3 linked regions of the Homo sapiens genome follow. The protein of the gene in region 2 interacts with the protein of the main gene of each other region in a pairwise test. Each region holds a gene or a part of one and is shown on either strand. Other genes may lie near its edges. The genes, in order: YWHAE, GSK3A and HTT.

What was found.
Region 1: the proteins of GSK3A (region 2) and YWHAE interact in binary tests that used the Homo sapiens proteins (3 or more experiments, as listed by UniProt).
Region 3: the proteins of GSK3A (region 2) and HTT interact in binary tests that used the Homo sapiens proteins (3 or more experiments, as listed by UniProt).

The regions. Positions count from the first base shown.
Region 1 is NC_000017.11:1,358,697-1,362,349, reverse strand, and holds part of YWHAE (14-3-3 protein epsilon), read left to right. Parts: intron 1-341; coding exon 342-448; intron 449-1,051; coding exon 1,052-1,258; intron 1,259-3,653. UniProt on the Homo sapiens protein: Adapter protein implicated in the regulation of a large spectrum of both general and specialized signaling pathways. Binds to a large number of partners, usually by recognition of a phosphoserine or phosphothreonine motif.
Region 2 is NC_000019.10:42,229,616-42,232,681, reverse strand, and holds the end of GSK3A (glycogen synthase kinase-3 alpha), read left to right. Parts: coding exon 1-186; intron 187-532; coding exon 533-625; intron 626-1,814; coding exon 1,815-1,888; 3' UTR 1,889-2,492; downstream 2,493-3,066. UniProt on the Homo sapiens protein: Constitutively active protein kinase that acts as a negative regulator in the hormonal control of glucose homeostasis, Wnt signaling and regulation of transcription factors and microtubules, by phosphorylating and inactivating glycogen synthase (GYS1 or GYS2), CTNNB1/beta-catenin, APC and AXIN1.
Region 3 is NC_000004.12:3,130,128-3,133,780, reverse strand, and holds part of HTT (huntingtin), read right to left. Parts: intron 3,477-3,653; coding exon 3,358-3,476; intron 2,496-3,357; coding exon 2,384-2,495; intron 2,144-2,383; coding exon 2,006-2,143; intron 1,220-2,005; coding exon 1,061-1,219; intron 968-1,060; coding exon 870-967; intron 1-869.

The sequences.
Region 1 (3,653 bases), on a different chromosome or scaffold from region 2:
ATTGACCAGCATTTACCAAGAAGCATCAGTGTTCAGTTTTAGTCATTGGTAATTCTGTAGCTGTACTGTGGTACTGTGAAGGGGGTGTGGGGGCTGGCGTGTGTGCGTGCCTGCATGTGTGTGTGTAACAATAGGCAGCATGCAGAAGGGAAAAGATACTTTTTATAACCTAGAGGCAGCTTTTCTCTGCTTTTGTGTCAAGAAGGAAGAAGGGAGTTTGGAGAGGGATACAAATTCTTTTTAATACTAAGCTCTCTACCTCAAAACCAGAGATAGAATATGTAATAATTTGTAGAATTTCTAGACTTAATCTGATTTAAAAAAAATTTTTTTTTTTTTAGGTTGAGACTGAGCTAAAGTTAATCTGTTGTGACATTCTGGATGTACTGGACAAACACCTCATTCCAGCAGCTAACACTGGCGAGTCCAAGGTTTTCTATTATAAAATGTAGGTTCTATACTAGAAGGGAAAATGTAAGATTGAAAGTTGGTCCTTTTAGAACCATAACTTTGTTCTATGTAGGTTTTCAACTTTTATTTAAGAATAATTGTTCAATGTTAGAAGGATAGTTAATATTGTAATGAAAAGGTGGTTGGGCTATTATGAAAATGTATTAGCTTTTGCTTATTTATATTCTTTTGTTTTTGTGAGACCTATCCCATTCCCCTCCCCCAAACGGCATACATTTCACAGTGCTTAGTGTTATATATAGACATTTTATTTTATGATTAATAAACTGTCATGCCATTCCTTGGAACCACTTGCTTGTTTAATTCTGGTCTATCAGGTGATAATTTTATTAATTTTTAGAGGCTCCTCAGTTAATTTCCTGGGATTTTTGCTTATATTTAGTAATATGAAATGTCTAAGGAAAAAAATGAAACGAAGCCAGTTATTCCTGAGAGTGTTTAAAATTATTGAAGTACACCTAATTGTTACATATATTTTTGTCACATTTTATATAATATAGAACAATTTTAGCTTATTTTCCTTTAAAAATCGTTCCTAGTTTAAATTTTTTTTTTTTTTTTAATTTTGGTTTTGTTTTAGGAAAGGGGACTACCACAGGTATCTGGCAGAATTTGCCACAGGAAACGACAGGAAGGAGGCTGCGGAGAACAGCCTAGTGGCTTATAAAGCTGCTAGTGATATTGCAATGACAGAACTTCCACCAACGCATCCTATTCGCTTAGGTCTTGCTCTCAATTTTTCCGTATTCTACTACGAAATTCTTAATTCCCCTGACCGTGCCTGCAGGTAAGTTGTGGGGAAGAACAGCAGCGCTCAGCGTGAAAGTTAAGGGGGGCGCTGTTTGGGTTTTCCGTGTTGTTTCTTGGGCCTGTCTTTGTAGACTTGGCTGCATAGTAATTCTTTTGGCTCTTACTGAAACTACTTTGGATAGTATTAAAACAGACCTGTCTCAACCCACTAGCATAGCAGTCAGCATAATTATTTTGATGTGGGATATTTTTGTTGCTGGTAGATTGAAATCTAACATGTTAAAATGAGTAGAGGAAGGAAATGAGAGGAATTAGAATTATTTTAATTTTTGTTATATTAGTTTTCAGTCTTTTTTTAAATTTGAGACCATGTCTCACTCTGTCTCCCAGGCTAGAGTGCAGTGGCGCCATCTCAGATCACTGCAGCCTTCACCTCCTGGGTTCAAGTGATTCTCCTGTCTCAGCCTCCTGAGTAACTGGAGTTACAGGGGCCTGCCACCATGCCCAACTAATTTTTTTTGTATTTTTAGTAGAGACGGTGTTTTCACCATTTTGGCTAGGCTGGTCTGGAACTCCTGACCTCAAGTGATCCGCCCGCCTTCGCCTCCCAAAGTGCTGAGATTACAAGCATGAGTCACCACACCCAGCCAGTGTTCTGTTTCTATGGGCATGTTTTTAATAGTTACTCTCGTAGCAAACATAATTTTATATTTTCTGTTTTAGCATAAACAAGTTTCAGTCTTACTAATGTGTGTTAAACTGTTCCCCCATTTATACTTCAGCTTGTTCCCAGTTTTTGATAATGTAGATAAATATGTAAGGAATATTTATACGTACATAACTTTTTACTTTTAAAAAGTTGTGATAGCCTGGGTGCAGTGGCTCACGCCTGTAATCCCAGCACTTTGGGAGGCTGAGGTGGGTGGGTCACCTGAGATCAGGAGTTCGATACCAACCTGACCAACATGGTGAAACTCTGTCTCTATTAAAAATACAAAATTAGCCGGGTGTGGTGGTGCATGCCTGCAATCCCAGTTACTCGGGAGGCTGAGACAGGAGAATTGTTTGAACCCAGGAGGCAGAGGTTGCGGTGAGCCTCGATTGCACCAGTACACTGTAGCCTGGGTGACACAGTGAGACTTTTTTTCAAATCTCTCTCTCTCTCTCTCCCCCTCTCTCCCCCCCTCCCCCTCCTCCCCCCCTCCCCCTCCCCGTCTCCCTCTCTCTCCCCGTCTCCCTCTCCCTCTCGCCTGGGCGACAAAGCGAGACTTTTACACACACACACACACACACACACACACACACACACACACACAACAATTTAGTGGCACCGAATACATTGACAGTGTTGTGTAATCACCACTATTTGAAAACTTTCTCTTCACCCCACACAAAGCGAATTATAGCCATTAAACAATCAATAACTTCATTTCCCCTCTCCCTAGCTGCTAGTAACTTTTATTTTACGTTGTCACTATGAATTTGGCCCATTCTAGATACCTCATGTAAGTGGGATCATATAATATTTGTCCTTTTGTGGCTGTCTTTATTTCATCTAGCGTAATGTTTTTATCCATGTAAAAGCATGGATCAGAGCTTCAGTCCTTTTAGTGACTGAATTTACACAATTCATTTTATGTATTTTGCACACATTGTTTAGTCATTAAACTTTTGGTGGTCAGTGGGTTTCCACCTTTTCCCTATGGTGAGTACAATGCTGCTATGAAAATGGGTGCACTAAGTATTTGCTTGAGTCCTTGTATTTAACTTCACCTTGAGGTGGAATTGGGACTGAAAATTCTGTGGGTAACTTTTTTTTCCGGACAGGATCTTGTTCTGTCTCTGCAGTTGTGCACTCATAGCTCACTGCAGCCTTGGCTTCCTGGGCTCAGCCGATTCGCCTACCTGAGCCTTCCAAGTAGCTGTCACTAGAGGTGGATGCCACCATACCTGGCCTTTTCTTTTCCTTTTTTTTTTCTTTTTTCTTTTTTTTGAGGGAGAGCCTGGCACTGTCACCCAGGCTGGAGTGCAGTGGCGTGATCTTGGCCCACTGCAACCTCTGCCTTCCAGGTTCAAGCGATTCTCCTGCCTCAGCATCCAAAGTAGCTGGGATTATAGGCGCCTGCCACCATGCCTGGCTAATTTTTTGTATTTTTAGTAGGGATGGGGTTTCACAGTGTTGGCCAGGCTAGTCTCGAACTCCTGACCTCGTGTGATCTGCCCGCCTCGGCCTCCCAAAGTTCTGGGATTACAGGTGTGAGCCACTGTGCTTGGCCAGCCCTTTTTTTTTTTTTTTTTTAAGATGGAGTCTCGCTCTGCTGGCCAGGCTGGAGTACAGTGGTGCGATCGCAGCTCACTGCAACCTCCACCTCCCAGATTCAAGCGATTCTGGTGCTTCAGCCTCTCAAGTAGCTGGGATTACAGGCATGTGC
Region 2 (3,066 bases):
TGTTCAAATCTCGAACGCCGCCAGAGGCCATCGCGCTCTGCTCTAGCCTGCTGGAGTACACCCCATCCTCAAGGCTCTCCCCACTAGAGGCCTGTGCGCACAGCTTCTTTGATGAACTGCGATGTCTGGGAACCCAGCTGCCTAACAACCGCCCACTTCCCCCTCTCTTCAACTTCAGTGCTGGTGGTGAGGGCATAGCCTGGGATCTGGGGAGTGGGGCGGGGTAGGGGGGCAGCCAAAGATTGTGAGGAGCTTGGTGTTGAAGCAGGAGTGGGGAGCTAAGGGCAGGGTACAAGGCAGGCCTGGGGCTCAGGAAAGATGACTCCCAGATTCAGGGGGAATCGAACCTGCTTCAGTTGTGCTTTACTGTGATCTGCCTTGTGCTAAGCTTTTTCTGGTTTTTCATTGAGAGAGGTCTGTGGCTGAAGGTGTCCACAAACAACTGGCCTTCCCAATAGCTGGGTTCCCATTTGGTGCCCATCATAACCCTGCTGTAGTCTACCCTGACTAGCATGTCAATTCCTGTTTCTAGAACTCTCCATCCAACCGTCTCTCAACGCCATTCTCATCCCTCCTCACTTGAGGTCCCCAGCGGGCACTACCACCCTCACCCCGTCCTCACAAGGTAAGTGGGGACCATCTGCTGGGGGTTAAAGTATCTCTCAGCCTGGAGAGGGTGGGGCTGTTCGCTCAGTGACTGGGTTTCCTGAATGTATTTTTAAATCATCGACATTTTGATGGCATAGGAAACACATCTTACAACATGTGAATGACCACCTTTAGAGGGTATTCTTGCGTACAAATGTTTAAATGTGTTTAATGCCAATGGGAAAGCCAGAGAAATAACGTCTGGCCTGAACACAAACAAAAAGTTGAATTCGTTGCCCAAGTTTGTTTTTTTTTTTTTTGTGCAATAGAGTTTCACTCGCCACCCAGGCTGCAGTGCAGTGGCTCGATCTCGGCTCACTGCAATCTCCGCCTCCTGGGCTCAGGCAATTCTCCTGCCTCAGCCTCCGAGTAGCTGGGATTACAGACACACACCACTACGCCTGGCTAATTTTTGTATTTTTACTAGAGATGAGGTTTCACCATGTTGGCCAGACTGGTCTTGAACTTCAGGTGATTTTCCCGCTTGGCCTCCTAAAGTGTTGGGATTACAGGCGTGAACCGCTGTGCCTGGCCATGGTGTCCACGTTTAAAAATGGGGCTATTTTATGTAAAAATTCAGATTTCCTGTTTCTCTTGGGGAAGAAAATCAGATTGGGCAGCAATGGGCCCGCCCATCCTACTGACAGTAGACAGTGGGCGCCCTTTATATTTTTTAGACGGAGTCTTTTTCTGTCACCCAGGCTGGAGTGCAGTGGCACAATCCCGGCTCACTCCAACTTCTGCCTCCTGGGTTCAAGTGATTCTCCTGCCTCAGCCTCCTAAGTACCTGGGATTACACGCTCATACCACCATGCCTGGCTTATTTTTGTATTTTGAGTAGACATGGAGTTTCACCATGTTGGCCAGGCTGGTCTCGAACTGCTGACCTTGTGATCTGCCCACCTCAGCCTCCCAAAGTGCTGGGATTACAGGCGTGAGCCACTGTGCCCAGCCCAGCCACCGCCTTATATGGAGCCTGGCACTCTGGTGTGTCACTCAGTTACTATCGTGGCCCTTTAGCACTTGAGTTTGCAACCCTTCACCTAAAGTAACAGCTTGTAACTTTTAATGTAGCATCTATGACAAGAGAATTCCTACTTTTGGGTTGGGCGAAGGGGTGTCTGAAAGGCAAAGGCTAACTCTGCTCCTTCCCTGCCTCCCTCCAGCTTTAACTGAGACTCCGACCAGCTCAGACTGGCAGTCGACCGATGCCACACCTACCCTCACTAACTCCTCCTGAGGGCCCCACCAAGCACCCTTCCACTTCCATCTGGGAGCCCCAAGAGGGGCTGGGAAGGGGGGCCATAGCCCATCAAGCTCCTGCCCTGGCTGGGCCCCTAGACTAGAGGGCAGAGGTAAATGAGTCCCTGTCCCCACCTCCAGTCCCTCCCTCACCAGCCTCACCCCTGTGGTGGGCTTTTTAAGAGGATTTTAACTGGTTGTGGGGAGGGAAGAGAAGGACAGGGTGTTGGGGGGATGAGGACCTCCTACCCCCTTGGCCCCCTCCCCTCCCCCAGACCTCCACCTCCTCCAGACCCCCTCCCCTCCTGTGTCCCTTGTAAATAGAACCAGCCCAGCCCGTCTCCTCTTCCCTTCCCTGGCCCCCGGGTGTAAATAGATTGTTATAATTTTTTTCTTAAAGAAAACGTCGATTCGCACCGTCCAACCTGGCCCCGCCCCTCCTACAGCTGTAACTCCCCTCCTGTCCTCTGCCCCCAAGGTCTACTCCCTCCTCACCCCACCCTGGAGGGCCAGGGGAGTGGAGAGAGCTCCTGATGTCTTAGTTTCCACAGTAAGGTTTGCCTGTGTACAGACCTCCGTTCAATAAATTATTGGCATGAAAACCTGCTTTCTGTCCGGCTGCCTGTTTCCGCTGAGGTGGTGGGGGCTTCCGGTGGGGGGACTGTTCTGGGACGGGAGTGAGCTGCATCTCAGGCAGAGGGCTGTCCGAAGGCCCTGGCTCAGGTGCCCAACCTTCTCACACCGTGGCTTTCTCTGCACGTGTGGTGATGAGCTCCATCTGGGTTATCTGCTGTAGAGGCCTAGGAGGAGCCTGCTCCATGACCCAGCATAAATCATCTGCTTCTGCTTAGGGAGGGAGGGATTAACCTCCCAGTAACTGGTGAGCCAACTGGGGATCAGAGAGGGGAAGGCCATGGAGCTTAAGTGACAGAAGAGTCAGGACTTGAACAATGGGCCGTCTGTCTTAGCCCAAGCTGCCTGCTGCTCTAGGGTCTGGGGGGACATGAGATGATGAGGAGTCACTCAGGCCAAAACTTAGCCTGCTTGTAGACTCTTTGTTGGGTGGCCATGGCTGGAGATGGAACCCTAGAAGATTCCAAGCCTTCATTTCCAAGTCTTAAACAGGACACCTACCTGGTCCACCTCTTAGGGATGTTGGGAAGTGACAACCCTGTG
Region 3 (3,653 bases), on a different chromosome or scaffold from region 2:
AGGGGGAGTTATCCCACAAATTTGACAATTGTAGGTTTTTTGCTTTGATTTTTACCAGTTAATTTTTACTCTTGTTGACTGGCCAGTTGTGACTTATGAGCCAGTTGGTATGGAAAGGTTCAACATGCTATCACTTAAAGAATTGAGCCTATTCCACTTTATACAGAAACAGAGGTTGAGTAAATAATCCCTAAGGCTCACTTTAACTCTTACCATACTATGGGCCTAGCACAGTGGTTTTTTTTTTTTTTTTTTTAATTCAACTGATTATTATTACTATTATTTTTGAGACAGTCTCACTCTGTTGCCCAGGCTAGAGGGCAGTGGTGTAACCACGCCTTACTGCAGCCTTGATCTCTGGGGCTCAAGCAATCCCCCCTCCACCTCAGCTTCCCGAGTAGCTGAGACTACAGGTATGCACCACCATACCCAGCTACTTTTTTTTTTTTTTTTTTTAATTTTCTGTAGGGACAGGGTCAACTATGTTGCCCATAGTCTTGAACTCCTGGGCTCAAGCAATCCTTCCACCTTGGCCTCCCAAAGTGGTCAGATTACAGGTGTGAGTCACCGTGCCCAGCATATTCAACAGACTTTACACTTAATGATAGGTTATTTCTAAATATATCCTTTAGGAAGAGGTCTATTTCAAACAAATATTCTGAGAATTAGAACTTAAACTGAAGTTTATGAAGCATTAACTTTACTGGCAACGTTTTCTTTCTAAAGCTGAGAGATGGATACATGGTGGGTATTACTGGTTACAGCTTTAGAGTGCATGGAAATATTTCCTATTAAGCTCCAATTTTAATTGTAGCAATGATAAAATGTCCACTAAGTGAAGAAATGGTTCCACAGAAGATTATGCTCACCCTCACAGCTGTACAAGCTAACTTGCAAGTAACAGAAGACTCATCCTTCAGTGTTTTCCGCAGCAAAGGAATGCAATCCGCCAAAGAAAATGTATTTCCTAACCAGAAGAACAAGCAACAAACATCATCATCTAAACTTAAACCTTAGTAAGCATAACTAGAAAAAACACAGCTGAAAAACTGGCCGTTACCTGTGAGGGTTCTAATGGTGCCCATCCAATCTCCCACGTGGAAGCGGGACCTGCTGAGGATGGAGCAGATGAGGGTCCCACAGAGAATGGCAGTGGCTCCTCGAACCTGTGGGTCTCCATGATCGATGTAGTTCAAGATGTCTGAGACATACTGTTCCTCTGTGGAGATAAATTGCTCAGCCATGGAACAATTCCCTACTATCAACTTTCTAACTCGAAACAAAAGCTTAATTCTCAGGAAAGAGAAAAAGAGGTGTGAAGAGAAGATCCAAATTCAGAAATGACTTCACTATAATAACCCTAAGTGATTAAAAAAAAAAAAGTTTCAGGATTTAAGAATTAGAGATTCATCATATTGCCAATATGTCCTCAATACCACAGACTTTCTGGATTATAATTCTAGGTTGTCAGATAATAAATCTGATTAAAATTCCAGATTCCACTTAAAAAAGATTAGAAAAAACCCTATTACACACTTACCTCATATAAATTCAAAAACACAAGTGTACCCTCTCACCCAAAGAAAAAGAGAGAACGAGAAGGCTCCATAGTAAGCATGGGCGCGATGGAGACTTGGGTCCACTGCTGCCTCAGCCAGTCCTGGTTCCCACTCACCCTGAGTGTGAATGCCTGGCCTGGCTGAGTGCGACTCAGCGCCACTGCGACCAGGCACAATTTGTGCTTTAGGTTTAAATCCGATGTGTATATATGTTGGCTCTTACGTGCTGAGGTTTCTACTTTTCTCCTCTATGGGTTTCATCTAAAGGGAACCCATGAAACAAAGAACTTCACTATTCATGTGTTTTCTGAAGAGCTACAACGCAGGTCAAATATCCCAAATGAACTCAAAACACTTACTGCTCTAAAACTAAAATAGTCAATACTGAAATAGTTTTTACAATAATGATTAAATCTGAGAAAATAAGATGTGAACTTTTAACATACCAGGGTATTCCGTGGTGTCAAGAGGAACTTTATAGAGTTTGCTGAAGAAAGATTCCGGGTGGAGGGCCACAGCTGCTCCCACACAGCTGAGGGCCAGGGCCTTCACGCTGACCCTCACATCCCTGTCCGGAACCAGCACTGCCAAGAAATCACCCAAGCCACCTTCAGCCTCAAACAACAGATTGTTTTCAAATGAACAAAACCAGACCCAATAACCTACCTGCTCCCATCATTTCCTCCCTCCCCTCGGCTAGTGAAAACCAAACTCATCCTCAGATTCTACTTCCTCTGCTGCACGCAAGGCAAAAACAGGCCACCAAGCTGACCTCTGAAACCTAGTTATTTCCTTCAACTGTGCACATCCCCTTTTGTACTCACCATTTTTTCCCCCTGTTAGCAAAAACGAAGCAGATAAAAGGCGGACACAATGGACAAGAGGTGCAGAGTCATCATCAGTGGACTGTCCAATGTCACCTTTGATGCGGCAAGGCTAGAAAGGAGACAATGACACTTGTTTGTCTCATACTCAACAATACATTCATGCATTAGTTCATTCAACAGATAGTTCCAGAGCAGCACTTAAGCCAGGTGCTGGGGATAAAGAGATGCCCTGGTTTGTGCCCATATGCACACCTGACCTCACAGAGACCATGGCCAAGCAGAAACAGACAAGTCAGAGGCAGCAGGACACAGGGTCACAGGGCTGTGGCAGGGGATAAATGCAGCATGCAGGGAGGGTGGGCGTGGTAAGAAGGCAGTTGACACTAGGCATTCAGGAACGGCTGCTGCAGAAGCAAAGCATGAAAGGTCTTCTACAGGACAAGCAGAAGCTACTTGGGGAAAGGCAACAGCCTGGGGAAGCCCAAATCTAAGAGGAAGTGGGCCTGGTAGATAGGGAGATGCCAAAGGCTATAATTCTGATTGATGGGACGAACTGTGAAACGCTATTCCTTGTCCTTGAGGAATTAAAAGTGAAGACAGTTACATTTACATGTAAAAAGATAATATGAAGAGAGACTTTTAGAACAGTTCAGTAGAACCAAAACAAGAAACGTTGCAGGCCATACGCAACCATCAAATGAATGATCCAAGAAATCAGACAAGGAAACATTCAGTACAGAATAGATTTGTCTGGGGCACACTCTCAAAGGAGGCAGAACTCAGGCAATTCTCAAGGCTGTGGGTAGTACCTGGAAAGGCAGAAAACAACAGGCCTGGGAAGAGCTGGTATTTAAAGGGGAAATTTAAAGGCCCAGGGATGGGAAAGCAATAAAGTAGACAGTAGCCAGGGCGATTTTAAATCCTCACACAAGCTCAGAAACACCAAGTCGTCTCAAGCCTATGTCCCTCACCTTGTTTTCTTGATCACCCGGTTCAGTAGCTTCATCTCTCAACACAAATTTATCAACACTGCTGTCAGAAGGCTGCCTGCAGTGACTCATGTTTTTCAATAAATGTGCCTGTTGAAGGGCTTTAAAAACAGAGAAATCAAGATTAAGTGACAAATTTCCACTTAAAATACAATTATACATTTATGCTAAGATAACTCAAAAGTATAAGATTTAGATCAAGAAAAAGTATGATTATTCCTCAATTGGTCATTTTCATCAGCTATTCAGAACTCAGAAAACAGTATCAAAGGACTTCT